2 linked regions of the Homo sapiens genome follow. The protein of the gene in region 1 purifies or fractionates together with the protein of each later gene. This does not show direct contact. Each region holds a gene or a part of one and is shown on either strand. Other genes may lie near its edges.

Region 1 (7,291 bases):
GGCGAGAGATGGCCGTGGGTCCTGTGGCACCCAGCCTGGTCCCCACCCCGAGGAATCCAGAGGGCCCAGGGCAGGGAGGGCGCAGCAGCGGAGATGGGAAAGGCCCACCCACAGCCACGCCCCACTGCCGGGAGGAGCGCTGGGCCGCCCACCCCACAGCCTGCGTACCTGACGGGCCCAGGCTCCCCTTCGATGCAGCTCACCACCTGGAACTTCTCCAGGTCCCAGAAGCGGATTGTCCTGCAAAGGCAGCCAAGCTGTGCTGCGAAGCCTATCCCTCATCCTGGCCTCCACATGTCCCTGGGAAGCCAGCTTTTCTCTAGAAACCTCTCCCCCAGGGCAGGGCCACCAGGAGCAACATCTGGGGCAGAGCTGGCCCTGACTTTGCAAGGGGGAGGCTCGGCCCGATGGCCCTGGCCCCAGGGTTGGCCCCAACAGCCACGAGCCTCCCTGCCCTATGGGGTCCCACTAGATGCCTTGGGTCCCAACCTGCCCATGAAGCCACAGACCTGGGACACTGGGGCCAGGGAACCAGAGCCAGGGGAGATGGACCAGGGTCCAGTCCTGGCTCGGCTGAAATCCAATTCAGTCCACACAGGATCATCAGACGTATGACACCCCAGACAGCGACAGACCGGCAGTAGAGACACGCACAGAGGACAAGGCGGTGAAGGACAGCAGTCACAAGCAACTCGCCTCGCTCCTCCTCCTCACCTGTCAGAGCTGCCGGAGGCCAGGAGGTACTCGTTGGGGTGAAACTCGACCACGTTGACAGGCCCCGTGTGACCAGGGAACTCAGACATCATCTTGCCGGCAGTGAGATCCCAGAGCTGGAGGCAGGGCAGGGAGGAGGTCAGGGTGACCAGGCATCTTGGCTGCCCACCCTCCCTCTAATCCAGGCCAAGCTCTTTATCCACAAGCTACCTTCCACTCGGGATAGGCTTGGGACATGTGAGCCCGATCAGGAGGGAGGTGAGGACTCAGCCTGCTGTGATCAGCAGACCCCAGCCCCCAGCCCCTGGGCCCAGGTCAGGCCGGGAGCTACCTTCACGGTGTGGTCATCTGCGGCCGACGCCAACCACTTCCCATCGGGGCTGAACCGGAGACACCGCACGGCCTGGCTGTGCCCCTGAGGGAGGACACGGCATGAGCTCACCCTGGGATCCTGGGCCCAACAGACCTCTCCCTGCCTCCTCACTCCTATGGGACCCCTTCCATCTAACAACACTGGTTACCCGCCTGGTTCTGCTTGGAGCAGTTTGATGAACGTGGCTCTAGGGGATTCATGCAGAGCCAGGGGATCCAGGTGGGCCGCCCATGGCGCTCCTGCTCAGCTCCAGGTCTATGTTTTATGTTATCACCCATGTGGGACAGCCGTCCCCTCCACCCCCTGCTGGGGTCTGGGCACCACACCACACTCAATGCCCGCAAGGTGCTCATGGAGTCACCGACAGAGCGCATCCTTACCCTGTATCGGAAGACACAGCCTTTCCTCCTGATGTCCCAGAGCTGTGGGGGAGAGAGAAGCAGAGGGGCAGAGTCAGGAGAGGTCAGAGCCACGACTGGAGGAAGGTGTGCAGTCGTGAGCAGACGGTGGGGCCCAGCCTTCTCTAGGTCGTTACTCCCCACGGAGACAAGGACAGAAACTGCTCACTAAAGCTGGCATTCTGAGCAGAAGCATCTGGCAGATAGATGCCTGCCACCCGCTTTCCCTAGGATGGTGTGGATGTGGCTGCAGAAAGGGAAGAGGTCCCCTCAGCAGGCATCCAGCACTGAGGGCCGGGCCGGGCTGGTCCTGCCACAGGCCCAGCAGGAGACACGGGGCACGGACCGGCCTCTCACCTTGATGTTTGTGTCCTGGGAACCAGAGGCTACAAACTCGCCGTACGGGTGGAAATCCAGGCTGCAGATGTTGGCTTTGTGTCCCATGAGTGTGCGAAGAACTAACAAGAAGGAAAGCAGAGACAGTGGCTAAGAGGCAAATGAGAAGGCTGGCAGAGGAAGGGCTGCTGTGGGCATTTGTGTGTGCGCTTTTGGATTAGCTGCACAGAAAAATAGAACAATAACACACATTTTTAAAACAGTAGGAAACAATCAAGGGTCCCACCACCCTAACAACGAATTTTCTTTTCTTCCTTTTTTTTGAAAAGGAGTCTTGCTCTGTCGCCCAGGCTGGAATGCAATGGCGTGATCTCGGCTCACTGCAACCTCTGCCTCCCGGGTTCAAGCAATTCTCCTGCCTCAGCCTCCCAGGTAGCTGGGATTACAAGCATGTGCCACCACACCCGGCTAATTTTTTTATATTTTTGGTAGAGATAGGTTTTCACCACGTTGGCTGGGCTGGCCTCCTGACCTCAAGTGATCCACCCGCCTTGGCCTCCCAAAGCGCTGGTATTACAGGTGTGAGCCACTGCGTCCTGCCAACAACTAATTTTCCCACATTTCTCTTGAGAGGTGACAGCCCTATGTTACCTCAAGTCTGCAGAAATTGTACCACACTCTCCCCACAGACTGTGCTCCAGCGGAAGCAGAACCAGGGAACCACCACACTCAGTTCAGGCCCCATGGGTGTGGAGCTTATGGTTTGCAGGGCACTGAACCCCACCCAAGACAGTGCAAGGAGAGAGACAGACCAGGAGAGGTTCAAGCTGGGAGAGAAGCTGCTTGGTTGGAAAGAGAAATCCAGGAAGGCTTTATGGAGGAGGTGGTATTTGAGTAGATGTCAGTGGGTGGAGGATGAGGGATGCTGTTAGGTAGATGGAGGTGATGGGCAAAGGCCCTAAGAAGGGCAAGTGGAGGGCATGGCTGGGGTGGCCCTGGTGCACACACCAGTCTTCTTGGGTGACCTCTGTCCAAGGGATCTTGAGGGTGGCTGTGAGGACACACTGAGGAGCAGTGAGAACTGAGAGGACACAGGGAGGACACGCGAGGACCAAAGAACTCCTGGGGTGGGGCCTGATCGCCTCCCACTGCCCTAGGAACCACATCTCCTATCCTTTCCTTGAAGGTTTTGCAGGCATCTCCATGGCCAGGAGCGGCCCAGCCTGGAGGCAAACCTTGTGTGTTTCAGGGTGTCCTCCAGTACCACTCAGATTTGTCTCATGTTTCCTGCTTTTGGAAAGATTCATAATTCACTATCTGAATGAAACTGACCATCCCAAGTGCCAGGGTCAGGAAATGTGGGAGTCCAGCCATTCTTAGTTTTGAGCCAAGGTGCAATAGGTCACCTTGTGAGGTAGTGAGCTCTCTGTCAGAGGAGGTATTCAAGATTCCATATATAACACTTTACTGCAGAGTCAAGATCCAAGCACTGGGTGAATTAAATGAACTCTACTGTATGATCTTCTCTACCCCCAAAGTCAGGATGTGGGCTCTGGCATCAGACAATACTGGGATCAGCCTTGGCTCCGCTCCTCACTGGTGGTGTGACCCTGGCCAATCACTTACTGTCTTTGGGCCTCATGTTGGGTCACAGAATGGAGTAAACATACATAAAGTGCTTAGCACGGGCTCTGCACATGGTAAGTGCTCAATAAATGCCAGTCTTAATTAGTCCCATTCACATTTCTTCCTGCACAAGGCCTGCCTTCTGCTCTTGGCTGTCCCGCAAGCTGGGCCTTCTCTCCTCCTCCCCAGGCCTCAGTGCCCCTCTGCAGCTGGCCCTGTCTGGCGCTGGAGCTGGGTCTGGATACTTTCACATCCCTCTGGAGTCTGTCGAATGCATATCCAATTCACCTGCACCAGAATCTCTGCAGCTGTCACTCCTTGCTCCGTGTAGCTATCAGGTGCTGCTGGGGGCTGGGCATTGCCTCCTGGCCAAGGAGGCCACGCTGGCTCTTGCTCCAGTCCACACCCGCTCCCAGCCCACTCAGCTTGGATCCCACAGCAAGGCTTCCAAAATCCTGCCCTGCCCAGAGAGGATGTGGCGGAGTCCCACCCTGTGTGGGCTGGCTGCATGAAGCACCGGCCGCCCTCCTGTGAGATCCCGTGGGATCCCCTGCGCTGAGCTACCCTTGCCCTCTGGCTGCGCTGTGGAAAGCAGGCAGGACCACATTCTTCCGGCTTGACTCCTGCCCTTGCTCTTCTGTCCCACGAAGGCCTCTGATGCCTACATTCAATCATGGGATCTAGGAACTGCAGAGTGGAGGGGCTTCCGGGGTCTGTCTGCCCCACACAGGAACCCCCAACGCCTCCCAGCTGAGCACCTCCTCAGCCTACATCTGAACCCTCCAGTGATGGGTGGCCTTTCAAGGCAACCGATATGAGGCAGCTCTCTCTCTCTCCTTTTTTTTTTTTTTTTTAAAAAAATAGAGATGGGGTCTCCTTTTGTTGCCCAGGTTAGTCTTAAACTCATGGCCTCAAGTGATCTTCCTGCCTTGGCCTCCCAAAGTGCTGAGATTACAGGTGTGAGCCACCATGCCCGCAGAGCAGCTCTCTTTGGAACCTTTCCACACCTGGGGCCTCAATTTGCCTGTCTGTCACTGTCACCTGCACTCTGGCGAGGGGGTGTGGAGGGGGGCCGGAGGTCTTAGCTCTACCTGCTGTGCTGATGGCAAGTTTCTCTTCCATCCAATGGCAGAACAGACAACACTGGGATGGGAGTCCTGACACCGGGATTCAAGTCCCAGGCTCTGCTACCTGCAGCTACTGGGGTTTTCCTAAGCTCGGTGCTCTCCCTGGGCCTCTGTTTGCCCATCTGTCAACCTGGCTGTCCATCGGAATCACCTGGAAGCTTATTAAAATCCAGATCCTGGGCCCACCCCAGTACTGAATCGGGTTCTCTGAGGATGGAGTCTGGGCCGTGAGTTCGTAATGAGTTCCTTGTGGAGCAGCCAGCCCTGGCCGTCCAGGGCCCAGGAATCCAGCAATCTTCAGTTTTCATTTCTCAGCCACCTCAAGGAATTCCTCACATTTCCCCTGTGAGCAAAACAATTGTGGATGAGAAAGCCTGGACAGGGGGCACGGCGCCCTCGGCTTCTCCCTTCTGTCTCTTGTTCTTCGGTGAATACTGAATGGCTGGTGCCCACGCGCTGGGATTCAGGTCCAGGGAGCTGCCCACCTTCTGCCTGAGCCTTCCCATCTTCTCCATGAGAGCCCAGCCATCCTGGACTCACTCCTCCCTGGCCCGCTTGAGTTCAGCGACACCAAGCACAGCATGCCCTGGTGTGGCCAGGCAGTGCGATCACGTGCCGAGACGCAAAGCCTGCAGTCCTGTTTGTTATCAAAGAGGTCCTGGGGCTCTTTTGTTCTTAAACTGACCATCACTGAGTAGGCAAGCATCACTGAAGAGGCTGCGTGCATCTTTATTGAGTACCACCTACACAGAGAGCCCACTGTTCCTGAGCAAAGGGAACCTTGCCACTGTGCATGTGTGGCTCATGGCTGCTGCCCTGCCGCCAACATAGAGCATGAACCAAGGAGAGGCCCAGAAGAATCTTGAAGTCTCAGCCAGGCCAGAGGGGCTCTCTTCTGGAAAAAGCAGCCTCGGCAAAATCCACGTTGCTGCTTCCTCTCCAGGGCTTCAGGTAGGTGGCCTCCTGCCTGGCACGCGGGATGATCCAACAAGGGCTATCAAAAAGCATCAGGCAGGCCAGGCATGGTGGCTTATTCCTGTAATCCCAGCACTTTGGGAGGCTGAAGTGGGCGGATCACCTGAGGTCAGGAGTTCAAGACCAGCCTGGCCAACATGGAGAAACCCCGTCTCTACTAAAAATACAAAAATTAGCGGGACATGGTGGTCCGTGCCTGTAGTCTCAGCTACTCAGGAGGCTGAGGCAGGAGAATCGCTTAAACCTGGGAGACAGAGGTTGCAGTGAGCTGAGATTACACCACTGCACTCCAGCCTGGGTGACAGAGTGACACTGTCTCAAAAAAAGAAAAGAAAAGAAAAGCATCAGGCAAACGGGTCTTATTTGGACCTCACAGTGCTGGCCTGCATGGTGTTCTAAAACAAATGTTGAATGAGCTGTCAACATTTTTAAATGGGTGGATTCCACATGAATTTCCAGATTTCCAGCCTCTCTTGAAAAATCCGTAGAGCTGGCACCACCTGCTAAGGCACCAAGGCACATGAATTTCCAGATTTCCAGCCTCTCTTGAAAAATCCGTAGAGCTGGCACCACCTGCTAAGGCACCAAGGCACATGAATTTCCAGATTTCCAGCCTCTCTTGAAAAATCCGTAGAGCTGGCACCACCTGCTAAGGCACCGAGGCACAGCACAGGAGCAGTGGGCGAGACTCTCCGCTCAGCCCAGAACTGAGGGCATGAGTTTCCAGACCACAACCGCATGAAACCAGTGACGACCTAGCACAGGGTGGAAGCAGACCCACCCCAAGGCTCACCACACCAGAACACTGGGACAAAGACCCTAAAAGCCTGCAGAGACAGAGAGAGAGAGGAAAGAAAAGAGAGAGAGAGAGGAAGGAAGAGACAGAACATGGAATGAAGCCAGTCCCCTGTGAAGGATCTGGGATCAGAACAACACCGGCCCCTCCCAATAGCAACCTAGAACCTAAAAGGCAGAAAAGCTGCACCTTCCAAATTCTGAGGGCGATATTTTATTGCCAACATAGAACTCTATACTCAAACTCATAAAACAAACACAAAAGCAAATGATGGGGGTAGCAGAAAGTCATTTTCAGCCATGGAAGTTCTCCAAAACTATGCCTTCCCAGCACATTTTCTCAGAAAGCTACAAAAGAATGTGCTCCATCAAAAAGAGGGAGAAAACCAAGAAAGGTTGCGGCGTGGGACCAGGAACAACAGATGGAGAGAATTCCCCAGAGAAGAGACACAGAGGCCCAGGATGACAGCTGGGCTGCAGGTCACTAGGACCAGAGGAGAGGCTCTGAGAAAAGGCGCCTGGATTATGGGATGGGTTTCAAAGAAACAGGAGGAGCTTTACTCTTCTGGCAGAGAATTTGGGGATGAATGAGTAATATGGACATAGAAAACACACAGATTAAAAAAAAAAAGGAACTATTATTAACTCCAGGGAAACCAAGTTATTAAAAAGAAATAGTCAGTGGTAAATGACACTTATGCGTCCTTACATTATAAACACCACCTATTGAAATGGTGCTACTGGGAGGGTGGGAGGAGAAACACGAGCCATGGGGCTGGGAGTGGTGCCATGAGAGAGCTAAATTCTCATCCTTTACAGTAGGAAGAGAATAACTAATGTGTTAACTTTTTTTTTTTTTTTTGAGATGGAGTTTCGCTCTTGTTGCCCAGGCTATAGTGCAATGGTGCGATCTTGGCTCACCACAACCCCCACCTCCCGGGTTCAGG
Region 2 (4,334 bases), on another chromosome or scaffold:
GGGTAAAGCAAGGGAATAATATTTTCCAATTTAAATTTTAACAACACTCTGGCTTCTGATTGAAGAATGAATTTGGGAGAGCATGTGTGGATATAGTGAGACCATCAAAGAAGGTGGCAAGTGTTGATATGTAGTGATCTAGGCAAGAGATTGTGCTTGTCTTAGGATTGTGTCGCTGAGAGGTAAGTAGAAGACTTTGGAAACTGCAGAGGTAAACTTTTCAAGACTTGGTAACTGGATATGATAGGTGTGTTGACTATAATTGCTATGTTGACTATAATAATTCCTTCTTATATTCAGTGTGGAGTTAAGTATGCAACTTTTGAATATTTATCTTCCTTATAATTGCCTTGCAAATTAGCTCGTAATTTAAATCAATCTACCTGCCAAACTTGGTGAGGTTTCTTTGATTATTCAAAGCTTAAAAGTTTACTGCAGGCTGGGCACGGTGGCTCACGCCTGTAATCCCAGCACTTTGGGAGGCTGAGGTAGGCAGATCACGAGGTCAGGAGATTGAGACCATCCTGGCTCACACGGTGAAACTCCATCTCTACTAAAAATACAAAAAAAATTAGCCGGGTGTGGTGGCGGGTGCCTGTAATCCCAGCTACTTGGGAGACTGAGGCAGGAGAATGGCGTGAACCCGGGAGGCAGAGATTGCATTGAGCTAAGATCGCACCACTGCACTTCAGCCTGGGCGACAGAGCAAGAGAGACCATCTCAAAAAAGAAAAAAAAAAGGTTTACTGCATAGTTTTTATTATATTTGATTTTGCTAGTCTAAAAGAGATAAAATTTTAATTCTTATTACTTTTTAGTAACTGTGCATTTTATTTTGTAGGATGTACGAAGTAGGTCCAAAGTTGTTGACCGTATTTACAGTCTCTACAAACTTACAGCTCATAAACATAAAATGAATACTGAAAGAATACTTTACAAGCAAAAGAAGAATTCTTCTATAAGCATTCCTTTTATCCCAGAAACACCTGTAAGGACCAGAATAGTTTCAAGGTAAGCAATTAAATATAGTCCATAAATTTGTGTCACTGTTCATTCATTCATTTAACAAATATTTATTGAGCACTTACCATAAACAAGATGTGCTTTTCAGTGGAGAAACAACATATGAATAAGAATGGAATGTTTGGTAAATTTAAAAGAAGCAGTCTTGGTAAATAAAGAAATAACATTATACTGTAGCTTTGGACATTTAATAGTTATTCAACAAACTTCTTATATTAAATAGTTAAGAGCTAAGGCTAAGAAGCTTGTTATAAGTTTTGTCATTTTATTTTATTTATTTTATTTTGCATGAAAGACAAACTACACTGTTTAAGAAGTGCCAAAAGTCCTTCTTAGCCAAAATATCAACCTCCAGTCCTCCCATAATCACCCTGATTCTTGAAATTTCTCCTTCTGGAAATTTAGATTGACATTTTCTGATTTTATTGGCAAAAAGATTTAATTTATTTTGGTGAACCGTCATGGCATTTAATTAGTGTTTTTACTCCCTTCCTTCTTTCTCCCTCCTCCTTTTTTTCTTCCCCCTTCTCCCTCTCTCCCTCCCTTCCTTCCTTCTTTCCTTCTTGAGACTTAGCAATTCTCTATACTAGGTACAAATCCTACATTATTGACAACACACTATTTCTTGACCTGAGTGGTTACACAGCCATTAGCTTTATAATTATACTCATAATTATAAACTGTATAATGTAGTTATAAATTGGTTTTATGCATGCATATTTCACAGCATAATGTAAAGTTCATTTGCTTGAAATATATTAATGGGACCATTTCTACATGTTTTTTAAGGACTTGGTAGAATTTAATATTCATTATGTTTTAAAAGCTCATACTAACATATGAATGGATTCTCTTAAAATTTTGATGTAGGTCAGGCTTTTGAGGTAAAATTTACTGACAGTATAAATGCATCCTTTAAATGTATGCAATTCAATTCGTTTTGACAAATGTATACAGTTAGGAAACTACCACCACTGAGATACAAAATATTTCTGTAACACAAAGTTTCCTTATGCCCCTTTGTTGTCAGTTCTCTTTCTTTATTCCCTGGATTTTGGGAACTACTGATCTGATTTTTGTACCTTTAGTTTTGCCATTTCTATACTGTCACATATATGGAATCATATAGTAGATAGCTTTTTGTGACTGGATTCTTTTCCTTAGCATAATGCTTTTGAAATTCGTTCATGTTTATGCATGGATTTGAATTTCATTCCTTTCTATCACTTAGTACTATTCCATTGTATGGTCGTACCACACTTTGTTCACTCACCAATTGATATATCTTTGGATTTTTAGCAGGACAAAATAAGATGATGGAAATGCATATAGTAGGGAATTATGTGAGAAGATGCATGAACTCCCTCGGTTTGATACTATTTTCTCAATAAGTTTGAGATTATAAACTCAACAACTCAGAAGCAGCTCAGAGGGTATGGAGGGGAAGTTTGAAAAGAGGAAAGGACCAAGATAGTCATCTTGGAGAGAAAGGGAGCATGCTGGCAATTTCAAATGCTCATTTTAGATTTGTAATTATTGGCAAAAAATAAAATCAGCTTGGTTGTGTAAACATTTTTAGTAATATGCAGCTGTATAGGAATGGAGAAGGCAGATATTTTGACTCAATTTGAAATCCAAGTAGAATTCTTCAGACTAGTTTGGTAGGAGAGAGAGACAACAGTTAATGGCATTTGCAAAGGTTTTGATAATACTGATGCACCTGAGCTAGATACACAGGAAAGTAAGGACAGCATTCTGGTGGATGTTGGGTATGTGTTGAGGCCAAATGAAGTGGAGATCTCAGTGGGGTAGAAGAACTGGTTCAATGACTGTGTTAGAGCATATGACATGGATGAATCAGAAATGGTGGATGGAGAATGGAAGTCTCAAGATTTCAGTGGTCGCACACTTTCTGATGATGACAAAGTCTAGTATGTGATCATATTAAAAAGGATTGGTTGAGGTAGAATTGAAGGAAAGTGGGGCAAAAACGGACTAGGTTGTTGGCTTTTTGGCCACATAGATGTTGCTGTTGCTGAGAACGGTGACAGTAGGTAAGAGGAGAACAAGAACCAGGTTTACAAGGAATAAGACACTGAGAGTTTGGCTGATGACCAAAAGGCAGTGGTCAAGCTAAATAGCATAAGCTTCAAAGAAGCCAGCATTATTTTTTAGAAAGGATGGAGAGAAATAGTCTGGAACTAGTGATGGGCAATAATATGAAGTTCTCCCACCTCTTTGAGCAGTTTGTAAGGGAAATGATGTGTTCAGGAGTAGCTACAATTTAGTTAAGAGAAAAAAGGTGAAGGTAACTCTAAAGAGAAGAACTTTATTAATGCCAGACTTTTTTTTTTTTTTTAACAGACTTAAGCCAGATTGGGTTTTGAGAAGAGATAACATGGAAGAAATCACAAATCCCCTGCAAGCTATTCAAATGGTGATGGATACGCTTGGCATTCCTTATTAGTAAATGTAAACATTTTCAGTATGTATAGTGTAAAGAAATATTAAAGCCAATCATGAGTACGTAAAGTGATTTTTGCTCTCCGTGTACAACTTTTAAAATCTGACTTTGTTTTAAAAAAACATAAACTGTTCATTACATTCTTCATTTTTATCATTTATAGTTTTATGCATGTAATAAACTAATATGTCATAAGATGATTATATTATTCCTGTCTATTATCTTAAAGTATTATAGTAGTTTCAATGTAATCTTATTACTAAAAGGAAATAATAGCTGATTACACCTTTTTTATAGGTAAGTTGAGGAATTTTCATAAAACAAATGTTAGAAATTGAAGTTCTGTCTACTCACTAAGAAGTGAGACTAGGATAAAATAATCTCACAAATTCATATCAATGGCATCCTTATCTATATCCTTGACTGGCTAAAGCATCCAGATAAGCAAGTGAGCCCTTCTAGGCTCACAAAAAGAATACACCCACCACTGTATTTACTAAAAATTCTTACCATTGAACTGATGGGGGTTATAATTTGAAGTGGAAGGAACATGCTATTGCTTATAATAGAATCTTGTTGTGTAGTTATACACCACAGACCTGAAAATGATTCAGTATTGAAATGTGATTTTTTTTCTACTCTTTGAGTCACTATTACTAGTATCTGTGGTTTCAGGGCCACAGATGTCTAATTCTTATGGCTGAAATCTGAATAGAGTCTCAAAGTCTGCCCATGGGAGTTAGAATCCCTGGGCTCATCCTTTTCTTTCATCACTTTGTTCAGTGAACTTAGGAGTATCAACTAACTTCATTATATTCCTTGGTTCTCCACATATGGTCAAAGGTATT

The links.
Region 2: the proteins of KATNB1 (region 1) and ASPM purify together in Homo sapiens (tandem affinity purification; 2 studies listed by IntAct, with this or other methods). This does not show direct contact.

What each region holds. Positions count from the first base shown.
Region 1 is NC_000016.10:57,745,479-57,752,769, reverse strand, and holds part of KATNB1 (katanin p80 WD40 repeat-containing subunit B1), read right to left. Parts: intron 1,944-7,291; coding exon 1,843-1,943; intron 1,510-1,842; coding exon 1,468-1,509; intron 1,130-1,467; coding exon 1,046-1,129; intron 831-1,045; coding exon 715-830; intron 241-714; coding exon 169-240; intron 1-168.
Region 2 is NC_000001.11:197,083,479-197,087,812, reverse strand, and holds the end of ASPM (abnormal spindle-like microcephaly-associated protein), read left to right. Parts: intron 1-840; coding exon 841-1,010; intron 1,011-3,386; coding exon 3,387-3,489; 3' UTR 3,490-3,686; downstream 3,687-4,334. UniProt on the Homo sapiens protein: Involved in mitotic spindle regulation and coordination of mitotic processes.